5 separate regions of the Homo sapiens genome follow, and regions 1, 2, 4 and 5 are each linked to region 3. Evidence: fine-mapped expression QTL. A gene starts in region 3. Each other region holds a variant in brackets. All regions are shown on one strand. Distances are between the middles of the regions.

What was found. PIP is the estimated chance that this variant, and not a neighbour inherited with it, causes the effect.
Region 1: its variant is the best candidate, but not a certain one, in a credible set for the expression of EMB in whole blood (TOPMed, PIP 0.57).
Region 2: its variant is the best candidate, but not a certain one, in a credible set for the expression of EMB in tibial artery (GTEx, PIP 0.53).
Region 4: its variant is the best candidate, but not a certain one, in a credible set for the expression of EMB in non-classical monocytes (Schmiedel 2018, PIP 0.62).
Region 5: its variant is the best candidate, but not a certain one, in a credible set for the expression of EMB in whole blood (INTERVAL, PIP 0.84).

The regions. Positions count from the first base shown.
Region 1 is chr5:50,147,291-50,152,290 of GRCh38, forward strand. No RefSeq gene overlaps it. Among named protein-coding and RNA genes, the nearest start is that of EMB, 290 kb to the right of the region's middle. The variant C/G (reference allele first, on the strand shown) is at 2,820.
Region 2 is chr5:50,627,622-50,632,621 of GRCh38, forward strand. No RefSeq gene overlaps it. Among named protein-coding and RNA genes, the nearest start is that of PARP8, 37 kb to the right of the region's middle. The variant G/A (reference allele first, on the strand shown) is at 2,745.
Region 3 is chr5:50,439,011-50,444,010 of GRCh38, forward strand. It overlaps EMB (embigin), which reads right to left and starts at 2,278. Exons shown (of 9, transcript NM_198449.3): 1 at 2,030-2,278. The coding sequence starts at 2,141. RefSeq lists silencers at 1,822-2,011, 2,092-2,221.
Region 4 is chr5:50,591,841-50,596,840 of GRCh38, forward strand. No RefSeq gene overlaps it. Among named protein-coding and RNA genes, the nearest start is that of PARP8, 72 kb to the right of the region's middle. The variant T/TA (reference allele first, on the strand shown) is at 2,938.
Region 5 is chr5:50,228,486-50,233,485 of GRCh38, forward strand. No RefSeq gene overlaps it. Among named protein-coding and RNA genes, the nearest start is that of EMB, 210 kb to the right of the region's middle. The variant C/T (reference allele first, on the strand shown) is at 1,956.

The DNA.
Region 1 (5,000 bases), 290 kb before region 3:
ATTTTTTTTTTTTTTTGAGACGGAGTCTCACTCTGTCTCCCAGTCTGGAGCATGGGGGAGCGATCTGGGCTCACTGCAAGCTCCACCTCCTAGGTTCATGGCATTCTCCTGCCTCAGCCTCCCGAGTAGCTGGTATACAGGCACCCGCCACCAAGCCCTGTAAATTTTTTGTATATTTAGTAGTGACAGGGTTTTACCATGTTAGCCAGGATGGTCTCAATCTCCTGACCTCGTGATACACCCGCCTTTGTCTCCCAAGTGCTGGGATTACAGGCGTGAGCCACTGTGCCTGGCCAAAATTCTTAAAGAAAATAATTTTCAACCCAGAATTTCACATCCAGCCAAACTAAGCTTCATAATGAAGGATAAATAAAATATTTTACAGACAAGCAAATGCTGAGAGATTTTGTCACCACCAGGCCTGCCCTAGAAGAGCTCCTGAAGGAAGCACTAAACATGGAAAGCAACAACCAGTACCAGCTGCTTCAAAATCACACCAAAATGTAAAGACCATGGAGACTAGGAAGAAACTGCATCAACTAACGAGCAAAATAACTAGCTAACATCAGAATGACAGGATCAAATTCACACATAACAATATTAACTTTAAATGTAAATGGACTAAGTGCTCCAATTAAAAGACACAGACTGGCAAATTGGATAAAGAGACAAGACCCATCAGTGTGCTGTATTCAGGGAACCCATCTCATGTGCAGAGACACACATAGGCTCAAAATAAAAGGATGGAGGAAGATCTACCAAGCAAATGGAAAACAAAAAAGGCAGGGGTTGCAATCCTAGTCTGTGATAAAACAGACTTTAAGCCAATAAAGATCCAAAGAGACCAAGAAGGCCATTACATAATGGTAAAGGGATCAATTCAACAAGAAGAGCTAACTATCCTAAATATATATGCAACCAATACAGCAGCACCCAGATTCATGAAGCAAGTTATGAGTGAACTACAAGAGACTTAGACTCCCACACATTAATAATGGGAGACTTTAACACCCCACTGTCAACAATAGACAGATCATTGAGACAGAAAGTTAACAGGGATATCCAGGAATTGAACTTGGCTCTGCACCAAGTGACCTAATGGACATCTAAAGGACTCTCCACCACAAATCAACAGAATATACTTTTCCTTCAGCACCACACCACACTTATTCCAAAATTGACCACATACTTGGAAGTAAAGCTCTCCTCAGCAAATGTAAAAGAACAGAAATTATAACAAATTGTCTCTCAGACCACGGTGCAAACAAACTAGAACTCAGGATTAAGAAACTCACTCAAAACTGCTCAACTAAATGGAAACTGAGCAACCTGCGCCTGAATGACTACTGGGTACATAGCGAAATGAAGGCAGAAATAAAGATGTTCTTTGAAACCAACGAGAACAAAGACACAACATACCAGAATCTCTGGGACACATTCAAAGCAGTGTGTAGATGGAAATTTACAACACTAAATGCCCACAAGAGAAAGCAGGAAAGATCCAAAATAGACACCCTAACAACACAATTAAAAGAACTAAAAAAGCAAGAATAAATACATTCAAAAGCTAGCAGAAGGCAAGACATAACTAAAATCAGAGCAGAACTGAAGGAAATAGAGACACAAAAAGCCATTCAAAAAATTAATGAATTGAGGAGCTGGTTTTTTGAAAGGATCAACAAAATTGACAGACCACTAACAAGACTAATAAAGAAGAAAAGAGAGAAGAATCACATAGATGTAATAAAAAATGATAAAGGGGATATCACCACCGATCCCACAGAAATACAAGCTACCATCAGAGAATACTACAAATATTTCTATGCAAATAAACTAGAAAATCTAGAAGAAATTGACAAATTCCTCGACACATACACCCTCCCAACACTAAACCAGGAAGAAGTTGAATCTCTGAATACACCAATAACAGGCTCTGAAATTGTGGCGATAATCAATAGCTTACCAACCAAAAAGAGTGCAGGACCAGATGGATTCACAGCCGAATTCTACCAGAGGTAAAAGGAGGAACTGGTACCATTCCTTCTGAAACTATTCCAATCAATAGAAAAAGAGGGAATCCTCCCTAACTCATTTTATGAGGCCAGCATCATCCTGATACCAAAGCCAGGCAGAGACACAACCAAAAAAGAGAACTTTAGACCAATATAGTTGAAGAATATTGAGGCAAAAATTCTCAGTAAAAAACTGGCAAAACAAATCCAGTAGCACATCAAAAAGCTTATCCATCCTGATCAAGTAGGCTTCATCCCTGGGATGCAAGACTGGTTCAATATATGCAAATCAATAAATGTAATCCAGCATATAAACAGAACCAAAGACAAAAACCACATGATTATCTCAGTAGATGCAGAAAAGGCCTTTGACAAATTCAACAACCCTTCATGCTAAAAGCTCTCAATAAATTAGGTATTGATGGGACGTATCTCAAAATAATAAGAGTGATCTATGACAAACCCACAGCCAATATCATACTGAATGGACAAAAACTGCAAGCATTCCCTTTGAAAACTGGCACAAGAGAGGGATGCCCTCTCTCACCACTCCTATTCAACATAGTGTTGGAAGTTCTGGCCAGGGCAATTAGGCAGGAGAAGGAAATAAAGGGTATGCAACTATGAAAAGAGGAAGTCAAATTGTCCGTGTTTGCAGACGACGTGATTGTATATCTAGAAAACCCCATTGTCTCAGCCCAAAATCTCCTTAAGCTGATAAGCAACTTCAGCAAAGTCTCAGGATACAAAATCAATGTACAAAAATCACAAGCATTCTTATACACCAATAACAGACAAACAGAGAGC[C/G]AAATCATGAGTGAACTCCCATTCATAATTGCTTCAAAGAGAGTTAAATACCTAGGAATCCAACTTACAAGGGACGTGAAGGACCACTTCAAGGAGAATTACAAACCACTGCTCAATGAAATAAAAGAAGATACAAAGAAATGGAAGAAAGGGTAGAAAGAATAAATACCATGAAAAAAGGCATACTGCCCAAGGTAATTTATAGATTCAAAGCCATCCCCATCAAACTACCAATGACTGTGTTCACAGAATTGGAAAAAACTACTTTAAAGTTCATGTGCAACCAAAAAAGAGCCCGCATCCCCAAATCAATCCTAAGCCAAAAGAACAAAGCTGGAGGCATCACACTACCTGACTTCAAACTATACTACAAGGCTACAGTAACCAAAACAGCATGGTACTGCTATCAAAACAGAGATATAGATCAATGGAAGAGAACAGAGCCCTCAGAAAAAACACCACATAGCTACAACTATCTGATCTTTGACAAACCTGAGAAAAACAAGCAATGGGGAAAGGATTCCCTATTTAATAAATGGTGCTGGGAAAACTGGCTAGCCATATGTAGAAAGCTGAAACTGGATCCCTTCCTTACACATTATACAAAAAATAATTCAAGATGTTTTAAAGACTTAAACGTTAGACTTAAAACCATAAAAACCCTATTAGAAAACCTAGGCATTATCATTCAGGACATAGGCATGGGCAAGGACTTCATGTCTAAAACACCAAATGCAATGGCAATAAAAGCCAAAATTGACAAATGAGATCTAATTAAACTAAAGATCTTCTGCACAGCAAAAGAAACTACCATCAGAGTCAACAGGCAACCTACAAATTGGGAGAAAGTTTTTGCAACCTACTCATCTGACAAAGGGCTAATATCCAGAATCTACAATGAACTCAAACAAATTTATAAGAAAAAAACAAACAACCCCATCAAAACGTGGGTGAAGGACATGAACAGATACTTCTCAAAAGAAGACATTTACGCAGCTAAAAAACACATGAAAAAAAATGCTCACCATCGCTGGCCATCACAGCAAATCAAAAACACAATGAGACACAATCTCACACCAGTTAGAATGGCAATCATTAAAAAGTCAGGAAACAACAGGTGCTGGAGAGCGTGTGGAGAAACAGGAACACTTTTACACTGTTGGTGGGACTGTAAACTAGTTCAACCATTGTGGAAGTCAGTGTGGTGATTCCTCAGGGATCTGGAACTAGAAATACCATTTGACCCAGCCATCCCATTACTGGGTATATATCCAAAGGACTATAAATCATGCTGCTATAAAGACACATGCACACGTATGTTTATTGCGGCACTATTCACAATAGCAAAGACTTGCATCCCAACCAAAAGTCCAAAATGATAGACTGGATTAAGAAAATATAGCACATATACACCATGGAATACTATGTAGCCATAAGAAATGATGAGTTCATGTCCTTTGTAGGGACATGGATAAAATTGGAAATCATCATTCTCAGTAAACTATCACAAGGATGAAAAACCAAACACCACATGTTCTCACTCATAGATGGGAATTGAAGAATGAGAACAGATGGACACAGGAAGGGGAGCATCACACTCTGGGGACTGTTGAGGGGTGGGGAGAGAGGGGAGGGATAGCATTAGGAAATACACCTAATGCTAAATGACGAGTTAATGAGTGCAGTACGCCAGCATGGCACATGTATACACATGTAACTAACCTGCACATTATGCATATGTACCATAAAACTTGAACTATAATAATAATAATAAAAGAGAAAGTTTCAACACTGTGATATAAATGCACCCATAATAATGAAGTTTCTCATGATGCTTCTGTGTAGTTTTTATTTGAAGATATGTCCATTTCCACGATAGGCCTCAAATCCCTCCAAATATCCACTTGCAGATTATAAAAAAGAGTGTTTCAAAACTGCTGAATCAAAACAAAGTTTCAACTGTGAGGTGAATGCACACATCAAAAAGAAGTTTCACAGAATGCTTCTGTCTAGTTTTTATGTGAAGATATTTCCTTTTCCACCATATTCCTCAAAGCACTGCAAATATCCACTTGGAAATTCTACAAAAAGAGTGTTTCAAAACTGCTCAATGAAAAGAAAGATTCAAGTCTTTGAGATGAATGCTCACATCACAAAGAAGTTTCTCAGAATGCTTCTGTC
Region 2 (5,000 bases), 190 kb after region 3:
CTATCTGCCTCATGTAAGGTGCAGGTGACATAATTAGGTAATCAAGCAAAAGATCACATTTTTTAATAAGAAAGAGACACTGGCTATTATTTTGAGTGGCAAAACAGGTTATTCAGTCCCAGTTTAAAATGGAAATGACAGAGACCAAGATCAAGATTTCTAATTTGAGATGTGCCTGTGATGCAATTACATTTGCTGAATGAAACTGCTTCAGTAATTAGATGCAGGTTTCTTCTCTCTTCTTTTTGAGATGTAGAGAGGACACAATAGGCTCATGGAACTTAAAGAACTCGACACCAGCTAACAAAACATGCTATCCAGCTTCTTTCATTTCACCATATTGCTTTCTTGAAAACATAGTACAGTGCCAGTTTAGCATTGAAAAAAATCAGTTCTCCTAATTCTAAAAAGAGGAGACAGCCAGGCGTGGTGGGTCACTAAAAATACAAAAAATTAGCTGGGCATGGTGGTGCATGCCTGTAATCCCAGCTACTTGGGAGGCTGAGGCAAAAGAATCACTTAAACCCGGGAGGCGAAGGTTGCAGTGTGCTCAGATAGCACCATTGCACTCCCGCCTGGGCAACAAGAGTGAAACTCCATCTCAAGAAAAAAAAAAGAAACAGAGAGAGAGAGACAAACTGTAATTTCATTTCAGAAGTTTTATAGGGTACTATTTCCAGTTCTTTTTTTCTTACTCCATTGAAGTGTAATTAGCAGTATGTGAAAATTTCCACTTTATCCTCAATCAGTAGCCTCTCCTTCCAATTAGCATATTTTTTCTATTAATTTTGTAAAGTGGGATTCTTGTTTTACACATACCCCTGGAAAGTATACTTAAACTGTGAGACCCTGGGATTTTATATTTCCAAATAGAAGATACCATCCTCTTGTATCACAAAATGTACTTAAGATGGTTTGGATTATATTTAAATATTCTTGAATGAAATAGACTTAGTGATTGAAGCCAATTATTATATTTTTCCACACCAAAATAAATGCAATAGGAAAAGATGACAGTACTATCTAGTATTCCTGCTTCAATATTGCACAAATTAGAAACATACATATTCTGTTATGTTATAGGGTCTAGGGCTTTCGGAGGACAAGGCTGCAGTCAGCTGAGATCGTGCCACTGCACTCCAGCCTGGGCGACAGAGTGAGACCCTTTCTCAATAATAGTAATAAAAGTAAAAAGAAATATAATATTTAATCAATATATGCACACACATGGGTTTATCATGACACACATGACATTTGTGTACAGTGAAAAAAAATGAGTAAATCTAGAAACCTGTATTGCCTCAATAGCTAGCTGAGTACTTCAATATGCATGTTTATTTCAACAATTTTGTGTTAAGCTTCAGTGGTAAGTAAGCAGAGTACACTGACCATAATGAATACTTCTTTTGATGAGGGTTATCACTACACAATTAAAATATGATATAGTTGGCTGGGCACGTTGGCTCACACCTATAATCCCAGCACTTTGGGAGGCCGAGGCAGGTGGATCTCCTGAGGATGGGTGTTCCAGACCAGCCTGACCAACATGGAGAAACCCCGTCTCTATTAAAAATACAAAATTAACCAGGCGTGGTGGCACATGCCTGTAATCCCAGCTACTCAGGACACTGAGGCAAGAGAATCACTTGAGCCCGGGAGGCAGAGGTTGTGGTGAGCTGAAATAGTGCCATTGCACTCCAACCTGGGCAACAAGAGCAAAACTCCATCTCAAAAAAAATAATAATAAATATATATATATTATATATAATAAATATATCATATATATGATATAGTTTAGAGTTAAATACTGACTGCTCTCGGGAACTTTGAGGTATTCTGAGGGATATAAATAACATGAAGAGAATAGCACATTGGCTTGCAGCAGATTAGAGTCTGTTACCTGCGTGAATACTTGTTTTTCATGAACTATGAGGATCCCCTTAGCTTTTGAACCACTTCTACTTGTGTTTAAATTTACCCTTTAATTTTGGGGTTTGCTGCCCTTCTGTTCCGCTTGAGTCTGGCTTTTCCTACTCTGACTCACTTTGATTCTTGACCTCTGAATCTTATTCCTATTTTACAATAAACACATGTGGCACATATGCCAATGAGTAGAGTGGAAGAGAGAAAAATTGCCAAGGAACTGTGTTTAATTTTGTTCCTTTCGCAAACCAGATACCATAACAGAAAAATTTTAGGAATATGTGCATGTTCAGTAGCCTTCAATGCAATTACAGTCATTATTACAAAGTGTTGGATAATCAATATTTTTTAAAGATTCACTAGTCCCTTCTCATAATTTTAGAACTTTGGGAAGTAACAATACAAATGTATTTTTAGCTGTGTCCTTTAATCTTTTACTGTTTCCTCTATGTGTGGTGTTTGGTTTGTGTGTGTGTGATAATTATTATAAAGATCAGAGGCTAACAGAGGTGTTTATCACAAACTTTTAAGATTTTTATTTTTATTTTTTAATTCTTTTTAAGAGACAGAGTCTCACTGCGTCACTCAGGCTGGATGCAGTGGTGCCAACTTAGCTCACTGCAACCTCCGCCTTCAAGGTTCAAGCGATTCTGCTGCCTCAGCCTCCCAAGTAGCTGGGACTACCGGAGGGCGCCACCATGCCCCACTAATTTTTGTATTTTTAGTAGAGACGGGGTTTCATCATGTTGGCCAAGCTGGTCTTGAACTCCTGACCTCATGATCCGCCCGCCTCAGCTTCCCTAAGTTCTGGGATTACAAGC[G/A]TGAGCCACCGCGCTCAGCTGCATGACCTTTTAACTTGCCTCATACACTCAATATACTCAAGGTATACCTTCCAAAGTGAAAAATTATGGCACGTTGCAGTCCTGACCACTAATTGAGAACTTTGATGCATTGGATTTTGGAGACCTCATTTTATCACCTGGTCCTTTTACTTTATGACTTGTCATGCTGCCATCTTTTGATGGGATTGAGATCAAGATAATAATTCCCAACTGGTCAGGAATATTGTGCCCCTTTGTTTTTATATCCAGATGCAATAGAGCCTCTGACACACCACTACTATGGTTCTTAGGATTTGGAACAAAATGCTTCTTTCTTTGACAAAATAAATGTTTTCTTTAAAGAATTCTTGATTGATCCTGGACCATTGTAGAAACTGAAGTCTTACCAATGCAAAAAAATATGACAACATGAGCTGCTTATCATGAAATAAGTGTTTTCCAGTTAACTATCCTGCTTCATCCGCAGGTAGGAATAATAGAATCTATACCTATGTCTTCATGGGAATTTCTCTATGGCCAGTTGATTAGTGAGGGAAAAATTGAGCCTGATTTACAGAAGTCGCTGTACAACATCACAGCAACAGCCAAAAGTAGATTGCTTAGGCATTATAACCTACTTGAATGCAATTTTAAAAGAAATTCAGCCTATGTAATCAGTTGTCCACGATGTCTAGAAGGAGAGATATTACTGATTTATATGTGGCAGCTAAAAATTTGTCTAGGTAATTAGGGACTTGGGGCCAGGACTGGTGGCTCACACTTGTAATCCCAGAACTTTGGGAGGACAAGACAGGCGGATTGTCTGAGGTCAGGAGTTCGAAACCAGCCTGGCTAACATGGTGAAACTCCATCTTTACTAAAAATACAAAAATTAGCCAGGTGTGGTGGTGTGTGCCTGTAGTCCCAGCTACTCGAGAGGCTGAGGCGGGAGAATCTCTTGAATCCAGGAGGCAGAAGTTGCAGTGAGCCAAGATTGCACCACTGCACTCCAGCCTGGGCAACAAAGCGAAACTCCGTCTCAAAAAAAAAAAAAAAAAGATAATTAGGGACTTGGAAGGACAAAGATTGAAGGATTGGTGACAATGAGTTTTGGGGAAAAATACGTAGATGAACTACAGAAAATGAGCCAGAGTGTAAGAATATTTGTGCTTAATATGAATACTCACCAAACTATCATCAGGAAGGTTATCAAATAAATATGAAGGTATGAAACAACTTCTTTCACCAGGCACTACATTGCTTGCTCAGAAGGCTAATAAACAGCAACATTGGTGGTAGCAGTAGAGAATACATATAGGTTTAGCAACATGTTGGACTTTACCACTGTCCCTTACCAAAGCCTATTTAGCTGTCAAGACTATTAGGTGTCCAACACACAAGCAACAAGGACCAAGGCTAAGCACAAAATAACATATCCTGGGTGAAAAAAACAGTCACCTTTTGTCAGACTTGTTGATTTTACTGGAGCTCCTCTATGATAAAGGCAACAAGGAATGTTGTAAATGGAATCTAGCTTTATATCCTTGAATTACATTTGCTTGACCTGACATCATGTTTCTCTGATCACCACTCTCCGTGGGTACATTGAATGCTTTATACATACTGCCATAATATCCTGTTCTACATCCTTCTATTCAAAGAACTTGTTGTATAACAAATGAGTAGATATTCACTGCACTCACCTGGTCCACCATTTATCCTATCACTAACCAAAATTATTATTATTATAGAATGGCGAATATTTTATTAAAGACTCAATCACAGTGCCAGCTGGAGACAATGGCTTATAAGGTTGTACTCATGCCAGAGGATGTGGTGGTGTATCCTCTGAACTAGTAACTAAGTATAAGCTTGTCTGGTGTCTCCCATATAAAAAATACAACAATCTTTGATCTTTGTTATGAATGTTGAAGTGACTCCTTTTGTCATTACATCTAATGATCCACTCCAAATATTTGTCTCTTGTCTCTGAGATTCTAGGTTTTTGCAGAATTAGTACCCAAGGGGAGAGTCTCAACAGTATTTCATTTTACGATCCATCCTTTGTTAGAGGATGAAAGACTTCTAACTGGCCTTTTAGGTTGCCTGAGACCTTTAGACAAACAGTCAAAAATTTAAAATTTAAAATGTGGCACACTGTTGCATGGGGTAGTAAATCTTGACCTTAAAACTGGTATTTGTAAGAAAAACAGAAAGAATTCAGGGATCCCCTTTGATGGCTCTTAATTCTATACA
Region 3 (5,000 bases):
AAAGCTGTGGTTTTTAACCAGCTTAAAATCACATTTAAAGCTACATGGAGAGCTGATGAAACTCCTTAATGCCCACACTGAATCCCAAGCCAAATGAACCAGAGTTTTGCGGGAAAAGATCCAGGTATCAGGATTTTTCAAGCTCTCTGGTGATTCTGACATACAGTCAAGTAGAGAATCAAAGTTCTACAATGAATCCAGAATGCACTGGTTCTCAGAACTGCAATACTCTGAGGTGAACCAGGGATAGAAGAATTGGAGATACCCAGAAGGGGGAAAAATGTCCTGGACAATTCTGTTTCTTTTTCTTTCTTTTTTTTTGAGACAGTTTTGCACTGTCACCCAGGCTGGAGCTTAGTGGCACCATCACCATCATAGCTCACTGCAGCCTCAAACTTTGGACTGAAGCAATCTTTCTGCCTTGGCATCCCAAGCACCTGGGACTACTGGTGTACATCACCACAACCGCACTTTTAATTTTTTTTTTTTTTTTTTTAATAAAGAAGGGACCTTGCTATGTTGCCCGGGGTGGTCTTGAACTCCTGGATTCCAGCCATCCTCCCACCTCAGCGCCCAAAAGTGCTGGGATTACAGGCCTGGACAATTCTTTATAAGTGGTATTATGGAAAAGAGATGTGGCACAAGGAAATCTGCGAAGGAACCCACGATGTTCTGTCCAAGTTGTTAACAACTAGACGTTTTAAAAGGCATTTATAAAAATTAATAGTCTTACCTTTTGATTATCCTTCCTTCTCTATGGTGTGTTACAAAAATTCCACATCTTACAAGCCCATGAAAATAAATTCCCATGAGAGTTTGAAAACTTTTTGCAGAATAATGTCCCAATTTTAGTTACTGGTGGCCAATATTTACCAGCTTGAGAGGTGGTCTTTTATTACCCTTACTGGCTGGTAACATTTATGACACAGAAACTTGCAATAGGTTGGATGGAATCCTTTCAATATGAAAAGTAATTATAAACAGGTGAAGGTAGAATGGCAACTTTCGTGTTGGCTTTGTTAATGTTTTGCACGTAATCCCTCTGTCAAAGTGTCTTAAACAATAAAACAACAAGCAAAAATCTCACACATACACACACACACATGCACACACACATTTTGTTTTCAAAGACCACGGTGTAAAATGAAGATACACACACGTTATCCTGTAAGTTGTGGATCTTTGGTTGGCTAGTTGGTTATGATGTTTTTTCCCCTACTCAGCTCTAAAAAAACATCCTCGGCAAGGTGAGGTGGCTCACGCCTGTAATCCCAGCACTTTGGGAGGCCGAAGCGGGCGGATCACCTCAGGTTGGGAGTTCGAGACCAGACTGACCAATGTGGAGAAGCCCAGTCTCTACTAAAAATATAAAATTAGCCCGGCGTGGTGGCGCATGCCTGTAATCCCAGCTACTCTGGAGGCTGACAGAGGAGAATCGCTTGAACCCGGGAGGAGGAGGTTGCGGTGAGCCGAGATCACGCCATTGCACTCCAGCCTGGGCAACAAGAGTAAAACTCCGTCTCAAAAAAAAAAAAAAAAAAAAAAAAAAAATCCTCAAAGCCAACCCACCTGCCAAGAGGAGGGAAGGAGGTGATACTCGAGCCTTACTCTCGAATCAAGAAAAGGGAGTAGGCCTTGGGGAAATGTGGCTTTCAAAATTCATGCCATATTTGCCCAAGCCAAGTCGCTAGCTGGTCCCTGCAACCACCCACACACCCCACTGCCTTCTTCCTAGGAAAAACCAGACTCTGCCCTGTTACCTACGCGCCCGACTCGCGGGGCGCTGTTCGTTCAAGACTCGCCCCAAAGAGCGCAGGAACGCGAGCCGCAGCAGTTTCAGGGTTCAGCTTAGGTGACACAAACGTAGCTAATGGGAGGCCGCCGCCGACTCTCCCACCCGCCCTTACCAGCATCCCCGCGCCTCTCCCCGCCACCCTTGCCCGGCGCGCCGGCGATGCCCTCTGCCCGCGGGGACCCGAGCCTCGCGCGCCCTCCGCCCTCCCTACCCTGGACCCTGTACCCATCACACCTGGGGCACTGCCGTCCGCCGAGCTTGGGCGCGCGGCAGCGAGAAGGCACTGGAGGAGGAGCAGCCGGGGCGTACGCGCCCTGGCCTCCAGCAGGCCGGGGAGGGCGCGCATGGCGCCAGAGGGTCCGCCTGGGTCCTCGTGGAGACTGCTCCCTCAGCTCGCCGCCGCGGGTGTCCAGAGTCCCTGCGCACACTCGCAGGTGGCCCGGCGCTCGCAGCCAGTGCCGCGGGTAGGACGCTGAAGAAAAGGCGGAATGGGAGGGGCCCGGCCGCCTTGCCCCACTCCCCCGAGACGCTCTTACCGCGCCCGGCCCTCCATCAGTTATGCAGCCCTCAGCCGGCTGCTGGCGTTCCCGGATGTGCGGTGGCGGTGCTACTTCCCGGCTGCAGCCTCTCCGGCCTCCGCCCTCTCGGCTCTAGCAGGTCGGGAGAGAGCTTGGGCAGGTGATGTCTAGCCAATCTCGTGGGGAGAGGTCGAAACTCTGCCTACAGACTGGCCTTTGCACTTCACCTGAGGCAGGTTTCACTAATTTGCTTTGATGGGACAGATGAGAAACACTTTTCTCCTCCCGGACCCCGGACATCTTTGGGCTTTCTTACGAGGGAGGCTTATTTTTGCGCAGGTGTAAGGTTTTATCCAGCTGCCAGACAACTTGTGTTAATCTTTCTTTGCTTTGCCTACCAATCACACACATTCTCTCTTCTAGTCTCTGAAGGCTTAACTGATTTTCTCCGGATGAAGGTTTTAGAGTCCCAAGGCCCCATACCGTGTCTGATTTTACTTTATTTTTGTTTGTTAAGCCTAACAGCTTCTGAGGAGCCACCTAGAGCTCAAGAAGCAAAAGCTACTGAGAGTAGATACTATGTAAACTGCACAAGACATTGACCTTTGTTAAATCCGAACACTCTTTAAGATAATGCTCTTACCCACAAGGCTGTAGCTTGGAATATTCAGTGCTCTGAACCAAATTAAATAAATTAGTGCTTTATCCGGGAGGGGAGGAGAAATCTATATTGTAACATTGAAACACATTGATTTGATTTCTCTCCAGGATGTTATAACGCATTAAAAGATATTTTTAAAATTTTTCACGAGCTTTGTTTCCTCTCCCTTTATTTTTTTGAAGTTCAGCTTTCACATTCGTAAATTCAAAATATATCGGCGTTAAAAAAAAAAGGATTGGAAATAACATGAGACAAATTTTGAAAATTGAGCTATTTAACAAAACCTGTGTTTATTCCAGGCAGGAATGGTTAATTTGTAATTGGTACGTATTACTAAAACACGTCTGTTTCTGGTTTAGTATTATATGCACAAAACTTTGGAAACAGAATGTAGATTCTTCAAATTGGCAGTGAGATAATATGAATAATACAATTCATTCAACAATATTATCTACCAGGTGCCAATCTACCATTGTGTTCAAAAGAGGCTAGATAGGCACACATGCACAAATGCACGCATGCACACATGTACACACACACACACACAAATTAGACAACTGTTTATCTGTGAATGACAAATCTCAGAAAAGCCTCTTCTCAGAAAATTATGGTCAAAATTATTAAAATCTTCTGAATGAAACTTTAAAAGATGCCTTCAAGGACTAAATCTTATACACTGTTGACCCTCTGAGGGCATTGACTGGGCTTGCTAAACCCAAATTGCCTAATCAATGGCTGCTACATCACACCTCTTTCTTTCAACCCTGCATCTGGTCTCAGGACTAACTGCACACATTTCCCTATAATTAGGTAGAGTGTCAACAGTAAGCACTTCTCACCTCAAACTAAACTCTGACTGACTTTTCCCAGTTAGTCTCATAAAATCCTTAGACACAAATTCACCCTTCTTAAAGAAACATTTTTTTCAGTTGAATCAGCCTATTTATGACCAGAAAAACTTACTTACCCAAGTTGATGCTGATCCCCACTGTTGCTTTTGCTGTTGGAACAAAAGAGTTGAGAAAGAAATATAATTCTCATTTTGCTAAGCATTTTGAAAGTCTTTTCATCACTGTTCCTGTTCTATATTTAGATATTTGATATTTCCAGCCTTATGTACATTCCACTTTTTCAAATGCTCCATATCCTTTAAAACAAGCTTATTGACTGCCTTCCCTATATAACTTTTTCTATCCCTGATTCACCTTTCAAAATTCATCTCAGAGTATTGCAGTTCTGAGAACCTCTGCACTCCTGGGGAATTCTCACTCTGTCGCTCAGGCTGGAGGGCAGAGGCACATTCACGGCTCACTGCAGCCTTGACCTTCTGGGCTCAAGACGAAGAAATTGGGGATTGGCTTAAGTAATTGCCCAAGTAATTGCTTAAGTAATTGCCCAAGTAATTACACATACTTAGTTAAGCAGCAGAGCAGGAAATTTGGCATTGGTCCATCCAGTGCCTGTTTTCCTAAACACAGTGCTTAAACACAATATCCAGTTGTCTCTCCGAGCTAATTGGAAATGTCTATGAAAGTTCAGAACTACTGACAGCATAGCCTATGCATCTAAATGTCTGATTTGCACTGAATGACATGCTGACACAGTTTGAGTCCTGGAATAAAATTAGGTACAGGGACTCTTTTAAGGTTTTTTGATTAAATAAGACATATAATATATCTTTGTAAAGGACATATCAGTGGGAGTATTTAAATATCATTATTATTACTATTACATGACACAAATTGGAGAAATGGGTCATGTTTATCTTTTGAAAAATGTTTGCAGTAGAATCATTTAAAATGATCCTTTAACTTCCAGAGGACGTGGCTTTTGCATTCCCTTTATGAACCCCCTTCCCTACTAACCTCTCACCCCAAACACAGCAGCTTTCTAGTAATAAATATTTTTGAAGCAAATACTATTCAAGCACCCACATATGTCTGACATTGTTAGTCCATATCTCAGTAGAACATGCTGGCAGTTTTTACCTTTAAGGACATTTAAAGGGGTTCCCACTGGACAAATC
Region 4 (5,000 bases), 150 kb after region 3:
TATTTATATAAAAACTCAGTTTCTTTCTTATATATAAACATTATTAGTAGTCTAAAAATGTCATTCTCAATAAAAAGGATGAGTGAACTTGAGGACTAGAGAATCAGGTAGTCACCATCAGAGAACTGGTTTAACAAACAGAAGGGGCCTACCCAGATACAGAGAAGTCAGGCAGGGCTGTGGTGTGAAAATGTTAGAGAAGCTTGATGGGAGGCCTAATATAGTTTGTCTTTACACCTGTATATTTTGCTTCTTGCATCTGCTTGAATGCCCTCTGTCATTTATTATAACTAGATTTATTGTTCCAATAGGTTTGTACTACAGTCAGAACAAACAAATCACTGGATCCAGCAGAAACCTTAGATATATGACATAACAGAGATTTGCAGAAAGATTTGTCCCATTGCCTTCTCGAATTTCTCTTATCATCAGTCCATCTAGCTGGAGCTCTCTGAAGGTCATCAGAGGTCAGTATAATTTTAATAAGATTTTAACTGAAGGATAGCCTTGATGTTCAGTGACCTTCAGACATGTTTGTTTATAATTGAGAAGCCACTCCCCCTGTTGAATGATAACCTCTTCCATGAATTACCAAACCAATGCTGCTCACATTTTGATTAACCATTGATTCCCATAAATCCAGCGTCCCCCAACACTGATTATCTAAATAACCTGAATTATTTGCATTGCCTTATCAATTCCATCTCATTTCCTGTCTTGGTGGTTTTGCTCACACTGCTTCTATGTGGAATGTCCATATGTACCCACCCGAGTTTCCACTTCATCATTCCATCATCTGTAGTCCACTATCCATCATCAGGACTAATGTGAGCTGACTTTCCTCCAAAAAGCTTTCCCTGAACTTATCCTAAAATAACATTTTTCTCTGCTAACTTACCATTTGTCATATGTTCGTATACAGCTTCTCTAACTGTCATGAAATGAAATAAATGGGAGGAAGATGAAACTTGAAAAGAAATCTGCTCCTTAAGGCAGGCCCTGGGGGAATAGGCCTGGCTGGAGGTAATGTAAGGTCTAGATGGTGTTTTTAGAATCTGAAGACTACAACACCAAACACAACAAGTATAAGCCTAGGCAAGCTGTCAGTGCAAGGCCTAAAATTAGGTATTTCAACAAGTGGATGAATCAATTTGGGGAATTGTATTAGTAAACAGAGGAAGCCTGTCCAGTAAAAGGGAGGGTAAGCAGGGATGCAGTTTAAAACTATTGAGGAATAATGGCTAAGAAATAGCAAAATTAACACATGGCCTAAAATATTAAGAAATTAAGCCTGTTATTGAATTACTGACCAGGCTAGTATATAGGAGCATTAACAACACAAAAACAGATTAGGTCACGATTAGCAGTGGGGGTGAAATAATCTTCAGGGCTGAAATACTGAGCTAGAAATATTTAAATCCTCCTTGCAGATGAAAAATATAGAGGACAATTTGTTGGTTCAGCATGAATTTCTAGTCTTTTGTTAAGAAGCTAGAACAGAAATACTCTCTTTCATTGCAAGTGAACATTGAGGCAGTAAACTCCAAATATAGCTGCAGGTACCATCTCCTGCTGATTTGTGTGTATAGAGCATGAAAGAAAGGCTCAGAAACAAAAGCATGTCGGAAAAATAAGCAGGAGGCATTTACTTGCAAAGAAATGTGAGGAAGTCAGTCTTCAAAAGAACTGGCCCAAAAAATTTAAAAAATAGAATTTTTTAAAACAAACAGTATTGTGAAGACTATAGGCTTTATATTAGTCTCTTCATGGCAGAAAACAGCAATTTTATCATGGTTATTGTATTCAAAAAGTTCATGACATATCTTCAGACAATAAATAGCATTGTAAAGTCAAGGATAAAGTAATTTTCATTAAGGAGTTAGCAACTCTCAGGAAATGCTCAAGGTTTTATTCATTTGGAGGACTGCAAGTAAACAGAGAGACTCTTTTATTGTTTCTTTATGTCAGAGTGCAGAGGTTTTTTTCTCTGTTTCTTCAGCAGTGGGACATGATGTACGGGCTGACAATGGTGTCAGGCCCAGATGTCACTTTGGTTTTTACACTTCATCTTGTGGTCATGTTTCCTCCTCTACAGGACATGTTTGTCTACCTACATTTGCTGAACAATGTTCCTAATCAGTACTATTGATTTTACATTTTACTTTGAGCCATTTTATTTGCACAGATCTAAGAAGAAGTGTTGATTATATTAATTTAATGACCTCCTAGTATTTTTTTGACGAAACAATAAACTAAGGCTTACAAGTTTATGTCTATCTATAGATTTATAAAGCCCTTGTGGTTTAAATTTACTTTTACATGTTTAACAGCTCAGTTTAGAGCAGACCAAACCAGTCAGCTCACCTCTACCTGATTTCACCTGCAGTATTTATAATGCAAATGTATCCTTTTTAATAAAAGATATCCAGATGTCTTGATGTCCCTGCTCTGCCAAGAAAGGACATTCTTTTTAACCTCCAAGCCTGAGATTGCATAGTCCATACAGCATGTACCAGACTGGTTTCCTAGAAGGATGTTATAGGCATCACTTCTGCGTGAAAAACATAGAAATTATTCTTATTACTGGATTTGTCTTGTCTAATTTAATTGAATTTGTAGCACAGCTATAAATTTTTTATTAAAAAATTAATTCTTCCTGGCCAGGCAAGGTGGCTCACGCCTGTAATCCCAGCACTTTGAAAGGCTAAGGCGGGCAGATCACCTGAGGTCAGGAGTTTAAGACCAGCCTGGCCAACATGGTGAAACCCCGTCTCTATAAAAATACAAAAATTAGCCTAGCATGATGGTGGGTGCTTGTAATCCCAGCTACCCAGGAGGCTGATGTGGGAAAAGTGCTTGAGCCCAAGACTGGAAGTTTGCAGTGAGCTGAGATCATGCCATTGCACTCCAGCCTGGGCAAAAGAGCAAGACTCCATC[T/TA]AAAAAAAAAAAAAGATTTTTCTAATTAGTTATATATTCAGGTAGAAGGGAGGACAAATTCTTATTGAACCAATACAAATAACTACATAGTCACAAAAAGTAAATGTTTTTATTAAAGAAACTTTGTGTAAGAATTAACCAATATTGCTAATTAAGAGTATGTTAATAGACAAAACCAAATATTGTATGTCACAATTCTTTACAAAATAATTATTTGTATGTTTTTCTTGGCAATTTATTAGCTTTGTTTTTATATTAAGAATTTCTACAAGGTATTTTTTTCCTCAACACTAAGAATTCAGAGTGTTTTATTTAGTTTTTACAAATTCAATAATTTGTAAATTTAATTGGAGGTTAAAGATAGATTAAGAAGAAAGAAAATGGGTTTCTCTCATGTTCATTAAAGTAGAAAATTAAACTAACCTCAATTAAATCGCTTTATTGAGGTCCTTTAATCCTAAATAACAACCTCTTGTCATGCTGGTCTTGAGTTAAGCAGTCTGCTTTCATGAATTCATCTGCTTCTACATTGTGAGTGTCTTGGAAATCCTGACTCATTTACTTGGTATAGTTGGAATATTGTTTGTGGGGACAAGGTCAGCCTATTCTTGGAGGCCTATATCCATGAGTCAATTTCCTGTGGTATCAACAGTATCAACAGTGTCTGCTACGGTTTTTACTGGAGCTCTTTTGATATTTCTTCCAGATGACTTAAATTCTGATTGGCGCTTTGTAGAAAGGCTTTTAGGTATGCTTAAAGGGAAAGAAGGGCTGGGCACAGTGGCTCATGTCTGTAATCCCAACACTTTAGGAGGCTGAGGCAGGTGGATCACTTGAGGTCCGGAGTTTGAGACCAGCCTGGACAACATGGTGAAACCCTGTCTCTACTGAAAATAGAAAAATTAGCCATGCGTGGGGGTGGGCACCTGAATATAGCTACTCAGGAGGCTGAGGTAGGAGAACAGCTTGAACCCGACAGGCAGAGTTTGCGGTGAGCTGAGATCACACCACTGCACTCTAGCCTGGGCAACAGAGAGAGATTCCATCTAAAAAAAAAAAAAAAAGCAGCGGGGATAGGGGGAGGAGATGTTGTTGATAATAAAACTGTAAAGTTTGGTTAATTTTTTGTCATAGCAAACAACATCACAATGGGGGATAGTGGCATTCTCTGTTGAGGCATAATACATACTCATTTAATGAAATTTTAATCAGTGATTACCATAAAAGACAGAACACATTAAGAACAATTAGTGCATCCTGATACCTCTCCAGGGCCTTTAATTTTCCCCACAAAGCAGATATTATTATTTGTCACCAACTGATGTTTACTTCTTTTTTTTAATTATTGTACTTTAAGTTTTAGGGTACATGTGCACAACGTGCAGGCTTGTTACATGTGAATACATGTGCCATGTTGGTGTGCTGCACCTATTAACTTGTCATTTGCATTAGGTATATCTCCTAACGCTATCCCTCCCCCCTCCCCCCACCCCACAACAGCCCCCGGTGTGTGATGTTCCCTTTCCTGTGCCCATGGGTTCTCATTGTTCAATTCCCACCTATGAGTGAGAACATGCGGTGTTTGGTTTTTTGTCCTTGCAATAGTTTCCTGAGAATGATGGTTTCCAGCTTCATCCATGTCCCTACAAAGGACGTGAACTCATCATTTTTTATGGCTGTATAGTATTCCATGGTTTATATGTGCCACATTTTCTTAATCCAGTCTATCATTGATGGACATTTGGGTTGGTTCCAAGTCTTTGCTATTGGGAATAGTGCCACAATAAACGTACGGGTGCACGTCTCTTTATAGCAGCATGATTTATAATCCTTTGGGTACATACCGAGTAATGAGATGGCTGGGTCAAATGGTATTTCTAGTTCTAGATCCCTGAGGAATCACCACACCAACTTCCACAATGGTTGAACTAGTTTACAGTCCCACCAACAGTGTAAAAGTGTTCCTATTTCTCCACATCCTCTCCAGCACCTGTTGTTTCCTGACTTTTTAATGATCACCATCCTAACTGGTGTGAGATGGTATCTCATCGTGGTTTTGATTT
Region 5 (5,000 bases), 210 kb before region 3:
ATAGGCCCTAAAGGGCTCCAAATATCCACTTGCAGATTCTACAAAAATAAGGTTTCCAAAATCCTCAATGAAAACAAAGGTTCAACTCTTTGAGATGAATGCACACATCCCAAAGAAGATTCTCAGAATGCCTCTGTCTGGTTTTTACGTGAAGATATTTTCTTTTCCACCATAGGCCACAAAGTGCTCCAAATATCCACTTGCAGATTCTACAAAAAGAGTGTTTCAAAACTGCTCAATTAAAACAAAGGTTTAACTCTCTGAGATGAATGCACACATCAGAAGGAAGTTTGTCAGAATGCTTCTATCTAGTTTTTATGTGAAGATACTTCCTATTCCACCATAGGCTTCAAAGCACACCAAATAGCCACTCGCAGAATCTACAAATAGAGTGATTCAAAACTGCTCAATCAAAAGAAAGGTTCAACTCTGTGAGTTGAACTCACACATCAGAAAGCATTTTGTCAGAATGCTTCTGTCTAGCTTTTATGCGAAGATATTTCCTTTTCCATCATAGGCCTCAAAGCCCTCCAAATATCCACTTTCAGATCCTACAAAAAGAGTGTTTCCAAACTGCTCAATGAAAACCAAGGTTCAACTCTGTGAGATGAATGTGCACATCACAAAGAAGTTTCTCATAATGATTCTGTCTAGTTTTTATGTGAAGATATTTTCTTTTCCACCATAGGCCTCAAAGTGCTCCAATTATCCACTCACAGATTCTACAAAAGAGTGTTTCCAAACTGCTCAATCAAAAGAAAGTTTCAACTCTGTGAGATGAATGCACACATCACAAAGAAGTTTCTCAGTATGCTTCTGTGTAGTTTTTATGTGAATATATTTCCTTTCCCACCATAGGCCGTAAAGGGTTCTAAATATACACTTGCAGAATCTACAATAAGAGAGTTTCAACACTACTCAATCAAAACAGCTTCAACTCTGTGAGTGGAAAGCACACATCACAAGAAGTATGTCAGAATGCTTCTGCCTAGTTTTTACATGAAGATATTTCCTTTTCTACCAAAGGCCTCAACGTGCTCCAAATATCCACTTACAGATTCTACAAAAACAGTGTTTCAAAACTGCTCAATGAAAACAAAGGTTCAAGTCTGTGAGTTGAATGCACACATCAGAAAGAAGTTTGTCAGAATGCTTCTGTCTAGTTTTTATGTGAAGATATTTCCACTTCCACCATAGGCCTCAAAGCGCTCCAAATATCCACTTGCAGAATCTACAAAAAGAGTGATTCAAAACTGCTCAATCAAAAGAAAGTTTCAACTCTGTGAGTTTAATGCAAACTTCACAAAGAAGTTTCTCAGAATGCTTCTGTGTAGTTTTTATGTGAAGATATTTCCTTTTCCATCATAGGACACAAAGCGCTCCAAATATCCACTTGCAGATTCTACAAAAAGAGTGTTCCAAAACTGCTAATTCAAAAGAAAGTTTCAATTCTGTGAAACGAATGCACACATCACACAGAAGGTTATCAGAATCCTTCCATGTTGTTTTTATTTGAAGATATTTAATTTTCCACCATAGGCCAAAAATGGCTCCAAATAACCACATGCAGATTACACAAAATGTTAGATTCCTAACTGCTCAATCAAAATATAGGGATTTTGGAGCCAAGATGGCTGAATAGCAACAGCTCCAGTCTACAGCTCCCAGCATGACTGACACAGAAGACAGGTGATTTCTGCATTTCCATCTGAAATACTGGGTTCATCTCACTAGGGAGTGCCAGACAGTGGGTGCAGATCAGTGGGTGCATGCACCAAGTGTGAGTCAAAGCAGTGCAAGGCATTGCCTCACACAGGAAGTGCAAGGGGTCAGGGAGTTCTCTTTCTTAGTCAAAGAAAGGGGTGACAGATGGCACCTGGAAAATTGGGTCATGCCCACCTGAATACTGCACTTTTGCCACGGGCTTAAAAAATGGCACACCAGGAGATTATATC[C/T]TACACATGGCTCAGAGGGTCCTGTGCCCATGGAGTCTCACAGATTGCTAGCACAGCAGTCTGAGATCTAACTGCAAGGTGGCAACGAGGCTGGGGGAGGGGCACCCACCATTGCCCAGGCTTGCTTAGGTAAACAAAGCAGCTGGGAAGCTCGAACTAGGTGAAGCCCACCACAGCTCAAGGAGTCCTGCCTGCCTCTGTAGGCTCCACTTCTGGGTGCATGGCACAGAAAAACAAAAAGACAGTAGTAACCTCTGCAGACTTAAATGCCCCAGTCTGACAGCTTTGAAGAGAGCAGTGTTTCTCCCAGCACAGACCTGGAGATCTGAGAACGAGCAGACTGCCTCCTCAAGTGGGTCCGTGACCCCTGAAAACCAAGCAGCCTAATTGGGAGGCAACCCCCTGTAGGGGCAGACTGACACCTCACACGGCCGGGTACTCCTCTGAGACAAAACTTCCAGAGGAACAATCAGATGGCAGCATTCGTGGTTCAAGAAAAACCACTGTTCTGCAGACACCGCTGCTGATACCCAGGCAAACAGGGTCTGGAGTGGACGTCTAGCAAACTCCAACAGACCTGCAGCTGAGGGTCCAGTCTGTTAGAATGAAAACTAACAAACACAAAGGACATCCACACAAAAAATCCCTCTGTACATAACCATCATCAAAGACCAAAAGAAGATAAAACCACGAAGATGGGGAAAAAACAGAGCAGAACAACTGGAAACTCTAAAAAGTGGAGTGCCTCTCCTCCTAAAAAGGAGCACAGATCCTCACCAGCAAAAGAACAAAGCTGGATGGAGAATGACTTTGATGAGTTGAGAGAAGAAGGCTTCAGACAATCAAACTACTCCGAGCTGCAGGAGGAAATTCAAACCAAAGGCAAAGAAGTTGAAAACTTTGAAAAACATGAGACGAATGTATAACTAGAATAACCAATACACAGAAGTGCTTAAAGGAGCTGATGGAGCAGAAAGCCAAGGCTTGAGATCTATGTGAAGAATGAAGAAGCCTCAGGAGCTGATGCGATCAACTGGAAGAAAGGGTATCAGTGATTGAAGATGAAATAAATGAAATGAAGTGAGAAGGAAAGTTTAGAGAAAAAAGAATAAAAAGAAACGAATAAAGCCTCCAAGAAATATGGGACTATGAGAGAAGACCAAATCTACGTCTGATTGGTGTACCTGAAAGTGATGGGCAGAATGGAACCGAGCTGGAAAACACTCTGCAGGATATTATCCAGGAGAACTTCCCCAATCTAGCAAGGCAGGACAACATTCAGATTCAGGAAATACAGAGAATGCCACAAAGATGCTCCTCGAGAAGAGCAACTCCAAGAAACGTAATTGTCAGATTTACCAAAGTTGAAAAGAAGGAAAAAATGTTAAGGCAGCCAGAGAGAAAGATCAGGTTACCCACAAAGGGAAGCCCATCAGACTAACAGCAGATCTCTTGGCAGAAACTCTACAAGCCAGAAGAGAGTGGAGGCTAATATTCAACATTCTTAAAGAAAAGAATTTTCAAGCCAGAATTTCATATCCAGCCAAAGTAAGCTTCATAAGTGAAGGAGAAATAAAATACTTTACAGACAAGCAAATGCTGAGAGATTTTGTCACCACCAGGACTGCCCTAAAAGAGCTCCTGAAGGAAGCACTAAACATGGAAAGGAACAAACGGTACCAGCCGCTGCTAAATCATGCCAAAATGTAAAGACCATGGAGACTAGGAAGAAACTACATCAACTAACAAGCAAAATAACCAGCTAACATCATAATGACAGAATCAAATTCACACATAACAATATTAACTTTAAATGTAAATGGATTAAATGCTCCAATTAAAAGACACAGACTGACAAATTGGATAAAGAGTCAAGACCCATCAGTGTGCTGTATTCAGGAAACCCATCTCATGTGCAGAGACACACATAGGCTCAAAATAAAAGGATGGAGGAAGACTTACCAAGAAAATGGAAAACAAAAAAAGGCAGGGGTTGCAATCCTAGTCTCTGATAAAACAGACTTTAAACCAACAAAGATCAAAAGAGACAAAGAAGGCCACTACATTATGGTAAAGGGATCAATTCAACAAGAAGAGCTAAATATCTTAAATGTATATGAACCCAATACAGGAGCACCCAGATTCATAAAGCAAGTCCTGAGTAACATACAAGGAGACTTAGACTTCCACACAATAATAATGGGAGACTTTAACACCCCACTGTCAACATTAGACAGATCAACGAGACAGAAAGTTAACAAGGATACACAGGAATTGAACTCAGCTCTGCACCAAGCGGACCTAATAGACATCTACAGAACTCTCCACCCCAAATCAACAGAATATACATTTTTTTCAGCACCACACCACACCTATTCCAAAATTGACCACATACTTGGAAATAAAGCTCTCCTCAGCAAATGTAAAGAACAGAAATTATAACAAACTGTCTCTCAGACTACAGTGCAATCAAACTAGAACTCAGGATTAAGAAACTCACTCAAAACCCCTCAACTACATGGAAACTGAACAACCTGCTCCTGAATGACTACTGGGTACATAATGAAATGAAGGCAGAAATAAAGATGTTCTTTGAAACCAATGAGAACAAAGACACAACATGCCAGAATCTCTGGGACACATTCAAAGCAGTGTGAAGAGGGAAAATTTTAGCACTAAATGCCCACAAGAGAAAGTAGGAAATATCCAAGATTGACACACTTCTGAGAAGCATTCAAGAAGTTTCTGAGAATGCTTCTGTGTAGTTTTTAAGTGAAGATATATCCCTTTCCACTATAGGCCTCAAATCCCTCCAAATATCCATTTGCAGATAGTACAAAAAAAGTGATTCCAAACTGCTTAGTAAAATAAGGTTGAACTCTGTCAGATGAATGGACACATCACAAAGAAATTTCTCAGAATTCTTCTGTCTAGTTTTTAGGTGAAGATATTTCCTTTTCAGCTATAGGACAGAAAACGCTACAAATATCCATTTGCAGATACTACAAAAAGAGTGTTTCCAAGGAGCTTAATAAAAAGAAAGTT